Linked DNA regions of Homo sapiens: all the other regions are linked to region 1. The links come from fine-mapping of genetic effects on gene expression. A gene starts in region 1. Each other region holds a variant in brackets. All regions are shown on one strand. Distances are from middle to middle.

What was found. PIP is the estimated chance that this variant, and not a neighbour inherited with it, causes the effect. A credible set is the group of variants that fine-mapping cannot tell apart.
Region 2: its variant is the best candidate, but not a certain one, in a credible set for the expression of PLXNA4 in whole blood (INTERVAL, PIP 0.89).
Region 3: its variant is the best candidate, but not a certain one, in a credible set for the expression of PLXNA4 in whole blood (INTERVAL, PIP 0.86).
Region 4: its variant is the best candidate, but not a certain one, in a credible set for the expression of PLXNA4 in whole blood (TOPMed, PIP 0.65).

Annotation. Positions count from the first base shown.
Region 1 is chr7:132,574,428-132,578,587 of GRCh38, reverse strand. PLXNA4 (plexin A4) reads left to right here and starts at 2,118. Exons shown (of 32, transcript NM_020911.2): 1 at 2,118-2,166. RefSeq lists enhancers at 1,679-2,656, 2,657-3,634.
Region 2 is chr7:132,483,303-132,487,462 of GRCh38, reverse strand. The region is part of intron 3 of PLXNA4 (plexin A4); the gene reads left to right. Among named protein-coding and RNA genes, the nearest start is that of PLXNA4, 91 kb to the left of the region's middle. The variant A/G (reference allele first, on the strand shown) is at 1,827.
Region 3 is chr7:132,754,924-132,759,083 of GRCh38, reverse strand. LOC100506937 (a long non-coding RNA gene) reads right to left here and starts at 114. Exons shown (of 2, transcript NR_134332.1): 1 at 1-114. RefSeq lists an enhancer at 1-65. The variant G/A (reference allele first, on the strand shown) is at 1,975.
Region 4 is chr7:132,423,414-132,427,573 of GRCh38, reverse strand. All of the region lies in intron 3 of PLXNA4 (plexin A4), which reads left to right. Among named protein-coding and RNA genes, the nearest start is that of PLXNA4-AS1, 73 kb to the right of the region's middle. RefSeq lists an enhancer at 1,181-1,878. The variant G/A (reference allele first, on the strand shown) is at 2,093.

The sequences.
Region 1 (4,160 bases):
TCATCTCACAGCTCCTTTCAAAGGCTCCCCAATTCACACAACTTCGATTTCTGTGAGAATATAACCCCTATAGGGAGGTATAGGCATTTAAGCCATTATCAGTCATGTCCACCTAATAAGGAGGCTCTGAGATGTTTCGATGGGAGGGACAGTAATGGGCGGGAGTTTCTGGGTGTGAGGACAGTGAAAACTAAAGAAGGGACAGGAGAGAGGAGGCCAAGAGCCATGGGCTCCTTTAGAGGGTCGTCCTTGCTGGTTGCCTATCCCAGGGAATGCTTACTGGACTCTGCTGAAGGTGCCACTTCCCTCAGACTATGGTGGGAGCGGGTATGAGGATGAGGGTGGCATGCACAGAGTTGAGTTAACAGGTGTGGGAATCCCTTCGGTTTCTCTTGGTGGGTGGGCCCATTCCTAGGGGGATCTAGGCAGAGGTTTGGGAGGTAGTGCCACCCACTCCCCATCTTCACTGCCTAAACCAGAGCTACATGGTGATTTCTTTCTTTGGGCTTCAGAAACCACCCTGATGTTGGCATGGTCTGTTCTGGATGTAGTCTAGGATCTAGGGTTTCAGAGAAGAGAGGAGCCAGGAGAGCCGCTCAGTATAAACATGAATGGAAAAGTCAGGTTACCAAGCCAGCTCTGGGGCACTGGCCACTCATGTTCTCTCGTGCGGGCCTTGTGCCCTCAGTGTCCTCGGCCTCCTTGGGTGCCATGTGGGGGTGACTTGGTGGGGTGTTGGGAGGGGTTCTGACTAGCAATGGGTGTATGCCTCAGAGTCAGTGTGCGCTTGTGTCAGCTCTGAGCACCTGAGGGTCCCTCCGACGGCCAGCGCCCAGAGCTGCAAATTCCGAGGCGGCTGAGCGCCTCCCTCTGAGCGCGCGCCGTGCGCTCCGGTCACCCATGTATGCCCCTCTCTCCGCCCCACATCGCCACCGCCAGGGTAGCTCCGTGCGGGCCGAGGGGACCCAGGGGGGTGTCGGCAAACGTTGGTGCGGAGGAGAGCCGGCAAGCCGGGCGGCGGCGGGTGGGAGCATGTAGGGAGGCGCCCCCTGCCCCCTCTGCCGGCCGCTCTCCCTCGCTCTAGATGTCAGCCGCGAGCTCCGAGCCAGCGAGAGCGAGCCAGAGAGGGAGCGGCGGCGGGCGGCGGGCGGCAGGGAGGAGAGGAGGCGAGGCGAGGGAGGGAGGAAGGGAAGCAGGGAGGGCGGGAGGGAGGAGAGGAGGACCCAGAGAGCGCCAGGCAGCTGGAGTTTTTGCAGCGCTTGGCCGGGCTTCAATGCACAGCAGCAGCGAGCCGCGGCGGCAGCAGGCAGCCCGGGAGCTCCGGCGGCGGCCGAGCCAGCGGCGGCCCCGCTCCCTGCCCCCTGCAAACTTTGCGAGCAGCCCGCCCGGGGGGCCGGGGGCGCGCCCGGGAGGCCCGGCTCGGCCCGCGGCCGAGCTCTCCGCCGCCGCAGCGCCAGCCGCCGCAGCCACCACCGCCGCAGCCCCGCGCCTCCCCGGGGAGCAGCCGGCGGCTCCCGCGGCCCCCCAGCCCCGGCCCCAGGGCACTGCCCGGCGAGTGTCTCGGCAAGGGTGGGGGCTGCCGCGGCGCGGCCGGCCGCGGGCTGCCGGGGGGCGGCCGCCGCTACCCAGAGAGGCGCGCAGAGGCGCCGAGAGCGCTCCCCGGCGGGTCCCCCGCGCACTCGCCGCGCCCGGGCAGCGGCCCGACCGGGCGAGCATGGGCGGCGCGGAGTGACGCCGCTGTGCCCGCTTGGCATCAAGGACATTCAGCCCGCGGGGGTGGGGACGAAGGGGGGCAGCCCGGCGTCGCCACCGCAGCCCCCGAGAGCCGCCGCCGCTGCTCGGGCTCCGGGGCTGGGTGGAGGAAAGGGGTGTTCGGAATCGATCCCCATTTTCCGACCTTTTTGTTGGACATTACGCCCACCTTGGACGCCGCAAGAGAAGCTGTCAAGCCCCGCAGGCTCTGATTCGGCGCCCTCCGCGTTCCTCGGCTGCTCCCGGCTTCCCTGTGCCTCGGTGGAGTATTTGCGTTCGGGGCTGGGGCTGGAGGAGGCAGCCACACGCGCGCACACGCACACGTTCAGAGGAGGGCGAGAGGCAGCGGCATAGGCTCCATCTGCAGTGTCAATGCGGCGCTCCCGCTGAAGGAGGGAAACGCGGCGCGTCCAGGTAAGGAGCCGGCCCGCCGGGGAGTGGGGCCGGGCGGGCGGCGAGGGCAGCAAGGTCGGACAGACCTGGGCCGACCCGGGAGTCCTCAGTGTCCCGGAGCCAGCCCGCGGCACACGCACACGCACACACGCAGGCACACACACAGATCCACACCGGCACACACGGCGCTCGCGCACCTGCCCACGTCCCACCTGGACGCCCGCGGAGGTGCAGCGGCCGGAGCAGGGATTTCCCGGGTGTGTTCTCCTCTCACGCTCCTGGACTCAGACTTCTCTTTCCCGGGACTTTCGGGGTGGGATTCTGTGTATTCCCGGCTCTGCCTCCCACCCGGGGAGGTTGAGGGAGCAATTTTTCAGCTCCCAGCCCCTTTCGTCCCTAGCTGGGCTTTAAAATGGGAGAAGTCCTGAGAGGTTTCCGGAGACCTACCCAGTGTCATCGCGGCCCCGTGGCCTTTGGACACCCTGGGATTTCAACGGGAGACAGACCCACAGATATTCGGACGCATATTTGGAGAGAGTGGTGGCCCAGCGCCCGGGGAGGAGGCCAGATAGGCGGTTGGGGCTGCAGTTCTGTAGGGCGGCGCATATGAAACAGACACTGCGTTTCCCCAGTAAGAGGCAGCACAAACGCCTTTCTGAAGCGTGGCACTGCTTCCCCGGGAATGCGCCGAGATTTCAGGCAGAAAGCGGCTTAAAGCATCGCCGCGTATGTTGCTTGTCTAGGGAAGGTACGGGGGTCAGATCCTCCTTAAAAGGTAAGACCTTATTCACAGCCTCAGTGCCTGCTTAGCAGCAAGCAGACAGGACTTGGAGACACAGGACTTGGGTCCCCTCTCACCTCCCTACCCTCCCTGGGCACATGGGGCTGCCTTCCCCGGTGCCTCCGGCTGGCGAACACCTGTCACATGCCTTTCGTGGTGTGTGTCTGAGAAAGAGAACTAGAAGGGGGAAGCACGAGGGATATAGTCCTCCAAAAGAGGAGGCTCCCCTCCCTCACGACCGTGGCGGCACTGCCCACCGGAGAAGGCAAGGCATTCGTGGGTCTGCCAGCGTCCCCCAGAGCCCAAGCCTGCTCCGATTGTAGAATCACTCCCCAGACGCCCGTGCTTTAAGGTCCTATTTCCCGAAAGCATTTTCATTCTTGTTCTCTCTGGCTGGAATTTCACAGGCTGCTCATTTTAACTTTTTCTGGAGGAGGTAGGAAGTGGCTGGGGTTCTAAGAGGCTTTTCCATAGTTCCCTTCTTGGGGTCTAAGAGCAACTAATTTAGGGTCTCAGTTGTCATAGGGAGAAGAACATGAGATCCAAATCAAATTCGGAATTGAATATATATGTACAAGCTCCTGTGTTTCTGGTGCTGTCACTTTGAGGTAGCTTTCTAGGCAACATGATCATATCATTTTCCCACAAAACTGAATAAGCTTGTACCCTCTGTCCAAGATCATGTGTTCAGAGTATCCCACAGACCCACCAGTGGAAAAAATATGTTAGGAGCCTTACAGAACATGATGGAAGAGGAGCAAACATTCTTTTGAACAAGGAGGCCTCAGTGCTAGGCTCAGAATTTGGGTTGTTTTTGTAAATCCTGAAGATAGGGGCTGAATGAAAGGGCTTTTTCAGCACCCTGACTCCGCTATTTCCAAACTTTTTTCAGCTCCTGCAAAGGTCTCTGGCTAGGCTGGGGAGAAGCGCAGACACCCCGGGAGGGAGATTGTATTCCCGCTGTGTGCTGTGTGAGCTGCCCTTTGATTGATTGAAAAGCATAGATGGAATAAAGCAAATCTCTCACAATGGAGAGACCCCAGTAGGGGGAAGAAACCTTATTTGCTTTTTAAGAATGGTGGGCGTGTGCACACACACACCCAATATATATACACACATGCGTTCTCAGAGTCTGGCTAAATGTGGTCAGCTCCCCGCCCCCGCCATGTGTGACAATGGGGTCCACCTCTGTCTTCCGGGCTGTGGAAGAAATGGAACATTTCTCCCCACATGC
Region 2 (4,160 bases), 91 kb after region 1:
ACCGGGGGCATTACTGTGTACAATTCATGCACTGAGACCTGCTTCACCTGCTGCAATGGGTGAATGAGCACCATTAAGAGTAAATAAGTCAGCAAGCAGTATGGGGGATGCTTTAACTCTTTTCTCCGGTGAGCTCAATCTCAGTGCAATGTAGAAGTAACTTCCTGCCTTGCCCTAAAAGAGTCTTACCCGCTGAATTTCCTACCAGCTGCCAGAGGACCATTTACTAGCTGGCAGGATGGAGTAGACCCTGGATGAGGATTTGTGTGTGTGTGTGATTGTCTGAGCTGGTTGGGCAGTGAATGTTATCAATGAAATGAACATTGAGAGTTCAGTGCACATAACAAAACAGTTATTTTCTCTTGGAAAAAGGAAGGTGTTTCCTGACCATGGCTGCATTGTAAACCCAAGATAGTCAACTTGCATTTTTGTGCTGTTTGTCCAAGGGTGGGTTGAGGCATTTGGTGACTGGTACTCTCTTGCCTGTGGAAGCCTGTCCAAATCTGTTCCCCGACAGGGAGGTCAAGTGCAGCACCATGAGTTTGGGATCAGGACACCCCCAGGAGCCTGGGCCAGCAAGGCGCTCAGAGACAACCCTCCTGAGGCAGGTAAGGACAGAGTCCAGCAGTCGGTCAGGCAGGCAGTGACAGGTGACACAGGCAATACCCCACCAAGAGGCTGGGGCTTCATAAACCGCGGCCGGCATTCCCATCTTTTACTTTGGTAGGTTGATATAAGAACAGTTCTGTTTCAGCCACCTGGGATATTCTATCTAATTTCCAGAGCAGTGGTGGGGCTGGTGAGGCATAAACATTTGAAAGGTAAGAGCGCAAGGGTCAGTTGGGGGGAATGAGCCTTCGGTCCTCCCGGGGAAAGCCAGGCCACTGGGGCGGCCAAACTTTCTGCTCTGCAGGCTTGGAGTGGCAGCCTTTTAATGGTTTTGCTCAAGCCCGGCTCCCGTGCCTGCAGACTCAGCACAGCTGGCCCAGGGGAACAGTCTGAGTTGGGAAAGGAAGGCTGGGCTGCCGAGTCTGTTGTTTGAAATAATAAAAAGCAAAAGTGGCCCATTTATTTATTTTTTCTTGAACAATAGAATTCCCCACCCCCACTCACTCACTAAGCACCACTCCCCTTTCCTTGTAATAATTCTGACTTGCTTTTCCCAGAGGTTATCAGGACCACAGTCACCTTTTGGGCAGAGGCCCAGCCGTGACAAGTTGTGGAGCTGCAGGAGGATTTTGCTGGAAGTTTTGCAAGTGACTGAGGCCAGGGCGTGAGAATAATGGAAATCATACTGTAGCCATAATTACAGAGTTGGTTTCTCTGAGCCCTGTAATAATCTCCTGTGTGTATCAAGGACCTTTCAGAGTTCTTTACGGTATGACAAGAGACTGGAAATGGGGGTAGGTGGGCAGGAGAGAGCTTGGGGGGATGCTAAGAGTAAGGGTGTTTGCTGTGGGTTTCAGGGGTCCAGGAGCTAGACCGAGCTATCCGTGGGCTGCTCTCAAAATTACTTTTTATTTTGCTTGAAAGGCATGAGTCCCAATCATTTGCAACCTTGTCTTTGACGACCGTAATTTCACTCCTTTAGTGCACACGTCACATGAAGCGGGGGGAAAGGAGGTGAGGAAAGTGCCAATTTAGATGTCTTTGATGTTTTCTGATGTGTGTGTGTTGCAGATGGTATTGGCAGCCTCTTCCTGTGGTGAGCTTTAAGGGTATGTGTGTTAAGAAATATGACCTATAAATACTACAGTCATAAGCAGGTGTCTAGGAACTTAGCAATAACCTACAGACTGTTAACATTTCCACTATAGGTAAAAATC[A/G]TAAGGCAAATGCCATCTTGACTGGCTTTAGGGCCAAGCAAACCTAAATCTTTGGCTTGAGTTGGGACAATCAGCTCAGTGTTGTCTCAGAAGCACGAGATTTCTTTGCTTGAATATTTCTGCTGGAATCTTTTCCCTCTCTTGCTTTCTCTGCCTCTTGCTTTCCTTTCACTAAGCGATCATTTTTATGGCTGCTGTTCAGTGGTGAATTACTGCCTGACATTAGTGGGAGAGACTAATGTTCATTGTGAACCAAAACATCATAAACTTCCACTTGAGGTGTGATTGCTCCTCTCGCTGGTGATTGCGTCTTCCCTGGATGTTTTTGCTAGGTTAAACTGTTCACACCTAAGGGGGTGGAGCGCTGTATGGATGTTGGTTAAGCGGAACTCTGGCTGGCCCTGCTATTAGCCTGTTGCGGGACATGCATCCATGTGTCTGTGCACAGACTAATCCATACCAGCCTCTCTGAATAGGTACTGGGTGCACATTCCCATGAAGAGGCAATAGGAGTATATAGTACAAAAACCATTCTTATTGGGAATTGTCATGTAGATTAATTTAATCTTCCTAATTTTTTTTTCTCAAGCCTGTTTTAAAATTAATTTGCTTTTGTTCCCTAGTCCTTCGGCACAGGTCCACAAGGGGGAATCACCCAGGAGTGGATTGGAGTGGAGGGAGACCCACCTGGGGCGAACATTGCTTCTCAGGAACAGATGCTGTGTGTGTATCTTCAGTGCTCAAGTCACAAAGCAATATCAGATCAGAGAGTCCAGCCTCTGCTTTGTTGCTTCCTAAATGTACCTGGGAATTCTTCCTAAAATTACTCTGGAAATTTGAATCCACTTTAACTAAAAATAAATATTCATAGCACAGAAAGCCCTGCAGATGGATGGAAGTGTCAGGAAATCAAATGGAGATACAATGTTGGAACACCAAATAGACTAGGAACATGTGGTTAGGGCAGAGGGCATATGTATTTGATACAGGGTTCGGTCAGGTAGTTCTGTTGTGCTATATGTTTCTCCAGCCCAAGCTGCCATGGGTTCATGTGTGATTGATCACAAGCACAAAGGGAAAGAAATGCAGAAGCATCAGGGCTGACCGATTTCCATGACAGGAAAAGACCCTCTATTTGCTATATTGTGTCTGCATTTTCCATCCCTGGTTTTGCAAATATTAAACCTGCATAGACCTTACCCTGTGGGTTGTGTGAAGGGGAGGCTGAGGTTGAAGGGCTCCAGGCAGAAGATCCCACAGGTGTGCCAGCGTGCCACCCTCCCTCCTCTGATTTCACGTTCAACCACAGACAGACGGCATTCTGTCGTTAGTCTTTCCAGCCTGGGAATTCTAAGACTGGCCCTTCAGACTGATCTTGCCTCAGACCAATGTATCCACTTCTCATGGGCCTTCCTCCCACCTTGTTTCAATCTCTTCTGCTATGTTTTAAGCTTTCTTCCCAAGTTTTACTCAGTTGACTAAAAGAGCAACTAAGCTGGTTGATATCCTCTTGGACATATTTTATATTCTTGAACACTATTAAGCCCTCACTCAATCACCCTTTTGATGTAAGTGTGGCCACACTGGCCCTCTTTTCTTATCTTTTTCCATTTCTCACTATTCTGCCCTTGGGCCCACCCACCTTCCCTGCACATCCCTGGGGGATCTCAAGTGGTCCCTCCTTGCTGACCTGAATAAACCCGGGGAGGTGTTCTCATCGTGAAATTTCTACTGCAGCCAATAGCTAGGCATTGTTGCATTCTCCTCCTGACTTCCTCCTGAAACACACATTGAAATCCCAGCAAAGAGTTTCTCAGGAACACTTGTCATTCTGTTTTCCAAGTGATCATTGCTAGTGCACATGATTTAAAGAGATAGTCTTAAATGAGCTTTGCCAATTCAAGATTTATTGATACGTGTGCCACTTTTTTGAATCATATGTGTGTATATATACACACATTGGTATAGAAAGATCCTGATCATAAATTAAAATGCAAACACATTAAAATTGAAGAAAGTGCTGCACAAACACCCCAAATCATAGAGCGCATTCAGTCAGCTGATACACAAATGTCAGACGCACTAGAGGAATTTATCCAGTGACACATGCAATTGAAGTAAAATATTGTGCTTTACAAAAACATATCATTAAAATGAAAACTAGCAGCATATTAGGAGTCTGGCCATGTAACCAAGACAACAAAGATGGGAAAGGATGAAAGACATGATGTACAGAGGAAGAGGGAGGAGGCAGAGGCAAGAAGAGGGAATGAGCCCCCAACCATAAGTGGTCCTTTTACTGCTGGGCTCACACCTGCTAGACTCTGGATAGGA
Region 3 (4,160 bases), 180 kb before region 1:
TGCCAGCATAGCTGGGCTCTGGTGAGGGCCTCTTCTGGGCTATGTCCTCACATAGCCTTTCCTCGGTACATTTCAGTGGAAAGCGATCTCTCTCTTCCTCTTCTTATAAGGGCGCCAATCCTATTAAATTAGAACTCCGCCTTTATGACCTCACTTAACCTTAGTCACCTCCATAAAGGCTCTCCAAGTACAGTCATACTGGGACTAGGGCTTCAATATATAAATTTTGGAGGTCTGCAATTCAATACATTGCACATGGTAACAAGGCCAAGGTCATGCATCGTGTTCCCCGGGGCTCGTCTGGCTCACCCTGGTTGAAGGCATGAGGAACATTCTACCAAAGTCTGCTCACAGGGGAGGGAGGCATGGATTTGGTGTAGACAATTAGAAGGGCAAAATGTTAAACTCGTTTGTGGAGTCTAGTTCACTCCTTACTTCCAAGGACGAGAAAGTCACAACTCACAGAAATAAAGATGCCACAGTCCAAGTCTCTTGATGAGATTAACACTTTTAAAATGTGATTTCTGCAATAACCATGCCCATGTAAGCCACCTGAAACTAGTTCTGGGGCTGCCCATGTCCTGCATCCCAGGCAGATGTTCCCAGATGTTGATCTGGCTTCATGTGAAGCTTTGTAAATAGACCTTTAGCAGCTCCTAGGATTAACTCTCGAGGCAGGGAATCCAGAGCCCAACCTACTGTCTTCATTCTACTGACCCCTTAGAAACTTCTGGAGCCTCCGAGGAAACCCTAGGGCTCCAGGGACACAAGTGGGAATTGACTTATCAGAATCCAACATTCTTAGAGACAGTACACAGGAAAGTGACGTGCCCAAAGTCACGCAGGGACAACAGAAAGTTATTGGCAAAACCTGGAACAGATCCAAGGTCTCCACTCAAAGCCTGAGAGTTCCTTCCAGTCCAGAAGATCCCAAACTCAACCAAGTGTCAGAACCCCTTGGGTGTTTAAAATATATTTTTTTCAGGCACCATCCCCAAAGGATTCAATTCAGTGGGTCTGGAGTGGAGCCCTGGTATGTATGGGATTTGCAGTGGTTTGGATGTGGTTTGTTTGTCCCCACCAAAACTCAAGTTGAAATTTGATCCCCGGTGTGGTGATGTTGGGAGGTGGGGCCTGGCAGGAGGTGTTTGGGTCATGGGGAGGGATCTCGCATGAATGATGTGGTGCTGTTCAGGCAGTAGTGAGCTGTTCTTACAGGAGTGGATTTGTTCCCATGAGAGTGGGTTGTTATATAGCTGGAGACCCCTCAGGATTCCCCCTCTCCGCACATATTCACTTCCCCTTTGACCTTTCTCCCTGTGTCAATGCAGCAGGAAAGCCCTCGCCAGAAGCCAGGGCCATGCCCTTGAACTTCTCAGCCTGCAGAACCCTGAACTAAATAAACCTCTTTTCTTTATAAATTATCCAGTGGCAGGTTTTTTTTTTTCTTTTAATAGCAAAACAAAATGGACAAAGACAGGGATTCTTAAGAAACATTAAGTGACTGACATGGCTGCTTTTGCTATAAGCAGGCATTTAAGCTCAGCATGTGTAGCAGCTTTAGTGACGGCAAAACTGTTGGAGGCAGGGAAATAAGTCCCTTGGCTGGCAGTGCAAATCTTTGCTGGCTTGGTCCCTCTAGCACCAAGACTATTCTTGACTCTGCAAAAGAACCAAGGGTGAATCCTAGAACTGTAGGCTGTATCAGATTCCACAGCATCACTCTTCATGCGTCTAGAAAGTTCCCCGCACATTCCTATAGGTAGAACGCGTACATAAACAATGACAGGTGCAGACAGGCGAGCCCACTAATTATCACCATCTGGATGAATAGACTGAAGTAAAAAAAAAAACCTATGTGATGGAATTTTCTCCTCTTTGTTTTCTTATTTCTGGTGGCTTAAATACTGTGTTTAGTTTAAATACAGACATGATCCGACCACAAACATTATGGGCGTAAAAGCCAACACAGCC[G/A]ACTCCATAGAGAGACTGTTGCTTTCAGGTATGAAATAAAAATAGTGTTTGCTGCATCTCCAGGTGTTCCTGTCTCTTCTTGGCATGTGTCACCTCACTCCTCCACAGGACTTCTCTGGGAAGTTAGTTTACTCCCATTTCAGAGAGGAGTAATCGGCAGAGGAGAGTTTAAAAGGCTCAAGGTCACAGACAATAAGTGACAAAGTTGAGATGAAAAGCCACATGGCACATATTAGCTACAAGCAGGTCTAGCCTTGGTTCCTGAACCCAGAGGCAGGGCTGAGAAGAAGGACTGGGTTCATGGCCTCCTAAATAAAGGAAGTGGTAAGGGAAGTCTGGGCCACTGGGCTAGTCTTTGTTCTGATGTTGAAGGAGGAGCGTTTGAAAGGTAATCGTCTGTGTCGAGTGCATTCCACTCCTGTGCTGTGTCTCCTGGCCCTTGGATACTAGGTGTCTCTGCCCTCATGGCTAACAGGTGGGAGAGAAGGTGCTGAGTTCAGCTGCCAGGACACCCTGGGGACAAGTGTCCCTGATCCACTGGACCCCTTCAGCATTTGGGAAGATGAGATTTTCATCTTGAACATCTGGTATTGGCCGATTGGCAGGCTTTACACTGAATCTCTGGCGGTCTGCACCTGGCCTCTCCCAGTGTCTGGAAGACACTGTGTGTGGGGCTGACCTAATCCTTGGGAAATAAGTGAGTGCTAGTGGCCTGCCTGCCTTTTTTTTTTTTTTTTTTTTTTTTTTTTTTTGCAGCCTGGGATCAGAGCCAGGGCTGGTGCAGCTGTGGGGAGCTGGCAATGCCATTCTTGTCCACTAAGCACTGTGGATGCCATTGTTATCCACAGGGCACTGTGGCACTTGGAGATGAAAAAGATGAAGTCCCTGCCTCCCCCATCGAACTTCCCAGGGTAATGCTGGGCTGGAGAACACAGGGTCTGGGCCTGCTCAGGCAGGTTCTTTGGGAGCAGAGGGCAGAAGGGCCCTTTTGCTACTGGGGAAAATGGCTGAGGCAAGGTAAGGCAGAGGTGAAGCAGAGGCAATGGGCCTCTCCAGGCCTCTAGAACCAGACTCTGCAATGTCTGGAGCATGGCACCCCCCCAGGTGACTTATGGAATCTCTTCAGCTTGTTTTACATCTCTGTGACTTTTGCAGGGTTCAGATGGCATAAAGCTGTTGGGCTGGCCAATTTCTTGGGGTCTCTTTTCTTCTGTGGGCAGGGTTGGCACCTGGTAACTCCCTGTGAAAGCAGAAGCATCTCTTCTGCCACTGGTCTCTTTCGAGGTCAGGTCTTGGAGCCTTGTTAAAGGGCAAATGCCATCTGGCAACATTATTTGTTGTAACGCCTTAGTTCCTTCTCTTTGCTTCTGTGGGTGGGGTTGGCACCAGGTAACTCCCTATGAAAGCAGAAGCATCTCTTCTGCCACTGGTCTCTTTTGAGGTCAGGTCTCGGAGCCTTGTTAAAGGGCAAATGCCATCTGGCAATGTTATTAGTTGTAATGCCTTAGTTCCTTCTACAAAGTGAATTTGCTACTTCCCTACCAGGACCCTGGGAGGGCGAGACTTGGGACAGGTCCTGTCTTAGCAAGATGGGAGATGGAGGGAAGAGAGCTGAGAAGGACCCTGGCCATGTGCCCTGTTCCTTGTGGAGAAAGGGAATTTGCTGGAGGACCTGGGCAGATGATAAGCTGGGGCTGGAAGAGTCCTCATGCCTTGTGCATCTTCCCTTGGCTAATTTTAATCTGTATCCTGTAGCTGTAATAAACCATAATTGTGAGTATAACAGCTTTTAGTGAGTTCCATGAGTCTGTCTAGTAAATTATCAAACCTATGGGTAGTCTTGAGAACCCGTCAAACCTTACAGTTGGCGTCAGAATTGAGGGTGATCTTGCGGATGACTGAGATGACTGTTTCTTCAATTACACAGGTGGGTAGAATCATTTACCACCTGAACGCCTTTTAAATGCTGGCTTATGTGCCGAAGCTAACTGACCATAGACAGAGAAACTAGATTGAACATGAGAATCTAGGAAACAGTTCTTGGAACACAGGCTTTTAGCAGCAGGCGTCACAGAAGCTCCCCATGTGATGGGCCTTGGGAGCCTCCAGTGTGGTGACTACCTGAGAAAGCTGGGCTCTGGCGGAAGCACTCACTGCTGCCAGGATGAAGGGAAATCCTAAGTGAA
Region 4 (4,160 bases), 150 kb after region 1:
CTCGCTTAGAGGAGCTAGCCCAGGTTCAATTCTTTTAGGGGTGGAGGTGAGGGCCCCCACAATTGTCACCCATGAGTTTATGACTGGGTGGGTGGGGGCCTGTCCATTCTGCTGTGTAGTTATTTCTCTTCCCTCTTTCCCAGCCTCTGGAACCAGAGAGGGGAGGAAAAAAGGAAGAGTGTGAGGGGCTCTGATGGGGCGCTGTAGACCCTAGTCTTCTACTTGGGGCACCCCAGCTCCCCTGGCTGTTTTTAAGGTCATGAATCCTTCCAGCCCTGCACTCCAATCCTGCCCTCAGTCAACCTCCTGGAGCTCAGACGTCCAGTGCGCCATTTCTCTGAAGGCTTTAAGGTCTGGGGTGAGGAGCAGGAAGAGGCCCCAAGGTCTTTTGTCTCCCAGAAGCTCTTCCCTCTGCCCTGGCAGAAGAGACAGCATTGCAGTGTCTTACCCAGTTGCCCTGCTAGGTTGCTCAAGTCTCCCACCACTTTTAAAGTTTGTGAGTGTCTTCAGTAGGAGTCACTGACTAGTTCTGGGGAAGAATCCCCTCCTGGGCCCCATTTCTTGTTTCATATGCTGAGCTTGGTCCCAAGGGGGTACAGGTGAGTGGATCCAGCTCTGGCCTGTGGGACTCTAGGACTCTAGGGGCTACTGCCCTAGGTCAGCATTTCTCAGCTTTTTAAAAATCACCTTTTCCCCCTTAGAGACAAGTTAAATTTAATTTAAATTCTCTTTAATGAGACGACATGTGAATTTATTGAGTAATGTTGACCTTTGGAGGGCCACAAATCATTATATCTAAGATTTTTTTTTCTTTTGCCCTCTAATTTTCACCCTCTGGGGAGCACTCTTGTACCCATTGAGAATGCATGTTCTGGGCTTTCCAGAAGACTATATGTTTTGAAACTGTCTGTAATTTCTCCAGACTCTCACTTAAGCTATAGAAAGGAGGGTCTCAGTGAATGAAGAATGTGCCTCCCAGGACTTTAGATGGTACTAAATCTGCTACTAGAGCAAATTTGCCTCAGTGTTTCTGGGCCTCTAAGTTTCCATGTATAGAATGCAAACACCTGCTGCTGCCCCTTCAACCAACAGGGAGGCCACACCTAGTGTCAGGTGGGCATGACACTGAGCTAGGGTTGGGCAGACATGACAGCGCTGGTCACACTGTGTGCCTCAGACAGAGGTGGAGACAATACATCTATACTGTCCTGTTCCTACCCTAACTCCTGCCCGGCAACCCAGCCAGTGGAGGGGTGTTCCTGAGGGAGAGGACCCCCACCCCCATCACCTTAGCCGCTCTACTGGGTCATCACCGGGGGCCATTGAAGGGCTGATGAGCCATGGCGGTGGGCTCTGCAGGATGATGGAGGCCCTGTGCAGTTGCTCTGGGCATCTTCTCTTGCTTGGCCGCACTTCTTGACACTCCTCCAGTTGTACACTGATCTCCCCCTGGGAGAGGCCCTCTTTCCCCTTTTCTGAGGCAGGAATGAATCCACAGCAGTGGCAGAGGCTGGGAGCAACCAGAAACTGCCCTGTGCCACCTTCCTCCTAAATGAGGCACCCCAGAGTCCTGTGCCTGCACTTTATGAAGAGTTTTCTCAGTTTCAGGGACAGGGAGTTGGGGCCACTGAGCAGGGTCAGGGAGCCTGGGCAGGAGGCCCGAGGGCTGCAGAAGCCCCTGTCTGCCTCCACTGGAACTGTCTGAGGGAGGCACCATGTTCAAGAGCAGGCCAGAGCCCCCAGCTCCCGCCCCCACCTCGATGGAGAGTTTAATAGGAAGCACAAATGAGAAACAGCCTTCTGGAATTTGGCTTTGGTTCCTTTCTCTCAGTTTCCTCAAATGTTTCTTTCTTCTCTGTTTCCCCTGTCCTTCTCCTCTCTCTTTGTCCTCTGCCCTTTTCTTCCTCCTTGTATGATTTTCTGGCTGAGTGTGTGGCCCTGTCTGCCTGCCTGCCTGTCTGCCTTCCTGTCTGCCTCTTCTAAGGCAGGTACCCCTGACTGGGGTAAGGCAGGGCTCAAGGTGGGGAGAGGTGGGGATCTGATGAGGGAGGGTGAGGAAGGGGAGGAGGAGCCAGGAGGGGCCTGGGGTTCC[G/A]GGAGACAGACATTAACCCTTTCTTGGCCTAAGGACGTCATTCAGCCTTCCCCTCCCCTTTCCCACCAAGGTCATAAAATCGGTCTCTTACTTTCACCAATTCCCCTGTCAGTGCCAGAAACACACAATTAGCTTTAAAAGTGTCTCCAAGCTGTGGCCAGTTAGAAATTTATGACTTTTTTTTTTAAAGCTTTCCTTTAAAGTGGCTAATTAGGTGTATTTCTCCAATGGTAATTTAAAAAATGCTAATTGGTCTGCACTCTGGAAGGAGGAGAAAAAAACTTTCCCCCTTATTATCTTGGCACTAGGGAGACGTAGAAGAGATTGACATGGCCTGAGCCTCCAAGGAGAGAGGCTAGGCGCCTGCTCTTTTACAGACTTGGCAGTGCGGAGGGTCCAGGAATGGTTTTCTGTGTTCCAGACTCCAGACAGTGGCCTTGCCAAGGGGACGTGGCACAGTGGGGCTAGAGAGGGCAGCTGGGGTAGGGCGGGGCAGTGAGCGGCTCACCCACCCAGGTGCCGTGATGCTGACACCCAGCAGAGGGGTGGCCTTCCTGGGAGGATGGGTGAGCTGGACGATGCGTGGAGGGCACACCATGGTCAGGACTCGGCTCTAGCACAAGATTTGACAGCTGCCAAACCACACGCTAGCAGAACCTCGTTTTTTTCCTATTTATTTATGTATAAAATTGTTATTGATTATATAATGTGATGTTTTGGTACATGTATGTAATGTGTAACCATCAGATCTGGGTAACTGGGATATGCATCACCCCAAACATTTATGTGAGAATTCACCATTTGAGGGAGGCTGTTTCTGCCAGGGACAATTACAAATGGAATGGAAAGGGGACAGTATCCAGGGTGTATAGTGTCCTCACATGGGGGAGGGGCAGGTCACAGGGAGCCCTGGGCAGGAATGAGGCTGGGAAAGGAATGCTGGCCTGGGGGGTTCTACTGACCTCCTGACTTGCCAGGAAGGGTGGGGGTTCCACCAAGATTTTGGTCCCTACAGAAGGATGAAGACGACATCAGCCTGGTTGGACGTCCACAAGGAGCAGTGCCCCCTCTACTGTCTTGTGGGCCTGGGCCAGGGCTCTCCAGCTGAGCTCCCTCCTCAGCCCCTTCAGCCATAGAGTATATTGGGACTTGGTATGGATTTCCTAGATCTGCCTCTTTTCCAAAAGTTGCTCAGAGATGGAGCAAAACCCAGGCCAGGGAGCGGGGGGCAGACCAGCAGCACCAGCATGTGAATCCACAACCCCTGCGTTTCCAAGACATGGGCCTGATGTTGGGTGAGGGGCTCCCTGCTCCTCTTCCTGGGGCTGGGGAGTCACTGAGACCCTGGCGAGGAGGAGGCGTGGGCTCATGCCTTTCAACGTCTCAGCCTTCTCTGTGGGAAAGCTAAAGTGGGGCTAGAATCAAGGGCCTCAGGTGACCCCTGCTCGTGGTTAGAGGCAAAGGGCATGTTCTGGGAGCTGATCCAGAGGGGAGGGCAGCCCTGAGAGGCATTGACCTCCATGCAGCCCCGCCTGGTTCAAGGGGGCCTGATGGGGAGTGGTGCGTTCTCCTAGAATGCTGTTGCTTTCTCCTTGTGGCCCCGATGGTGGTGGCTGTAGTGTGGCCATCCCCATGTGTTGCTATGTGAGTAACGCAATTACGAAGACACAAAACAGGGATGAAGAAAAACATTCTGCAGGAGAGAGAAGGGGAGGGAGGACCAGTCACAATCAGCTCTGTTGTTATCGGATCATTTCAGGGAGGAGTAGAATTCCAGACAGGGAGCCCAGTCCCATTTAAAACCCTGTGCTGTTGTGGAAGGGAGGAGTGATGATCAATTAAACAGATTCCTCAGCTTTTTTGCTGAAATGAGCTTTTATTAAGGATGTCACTTCCCCTCTTTGGCTTCATGACCATCTCTAGAAAAGCTGGATGGGCATACATGTGACTGATATTCTGGCCCCAAATCTCTGCAGCTCTCTGCAACTTCCTGCTCTCAGACTCAGTTTATCCATCAGCAAAATGGGAAGAGGGAAACCCCTTCATTCTCTCTGCTGCAGTGTGACAG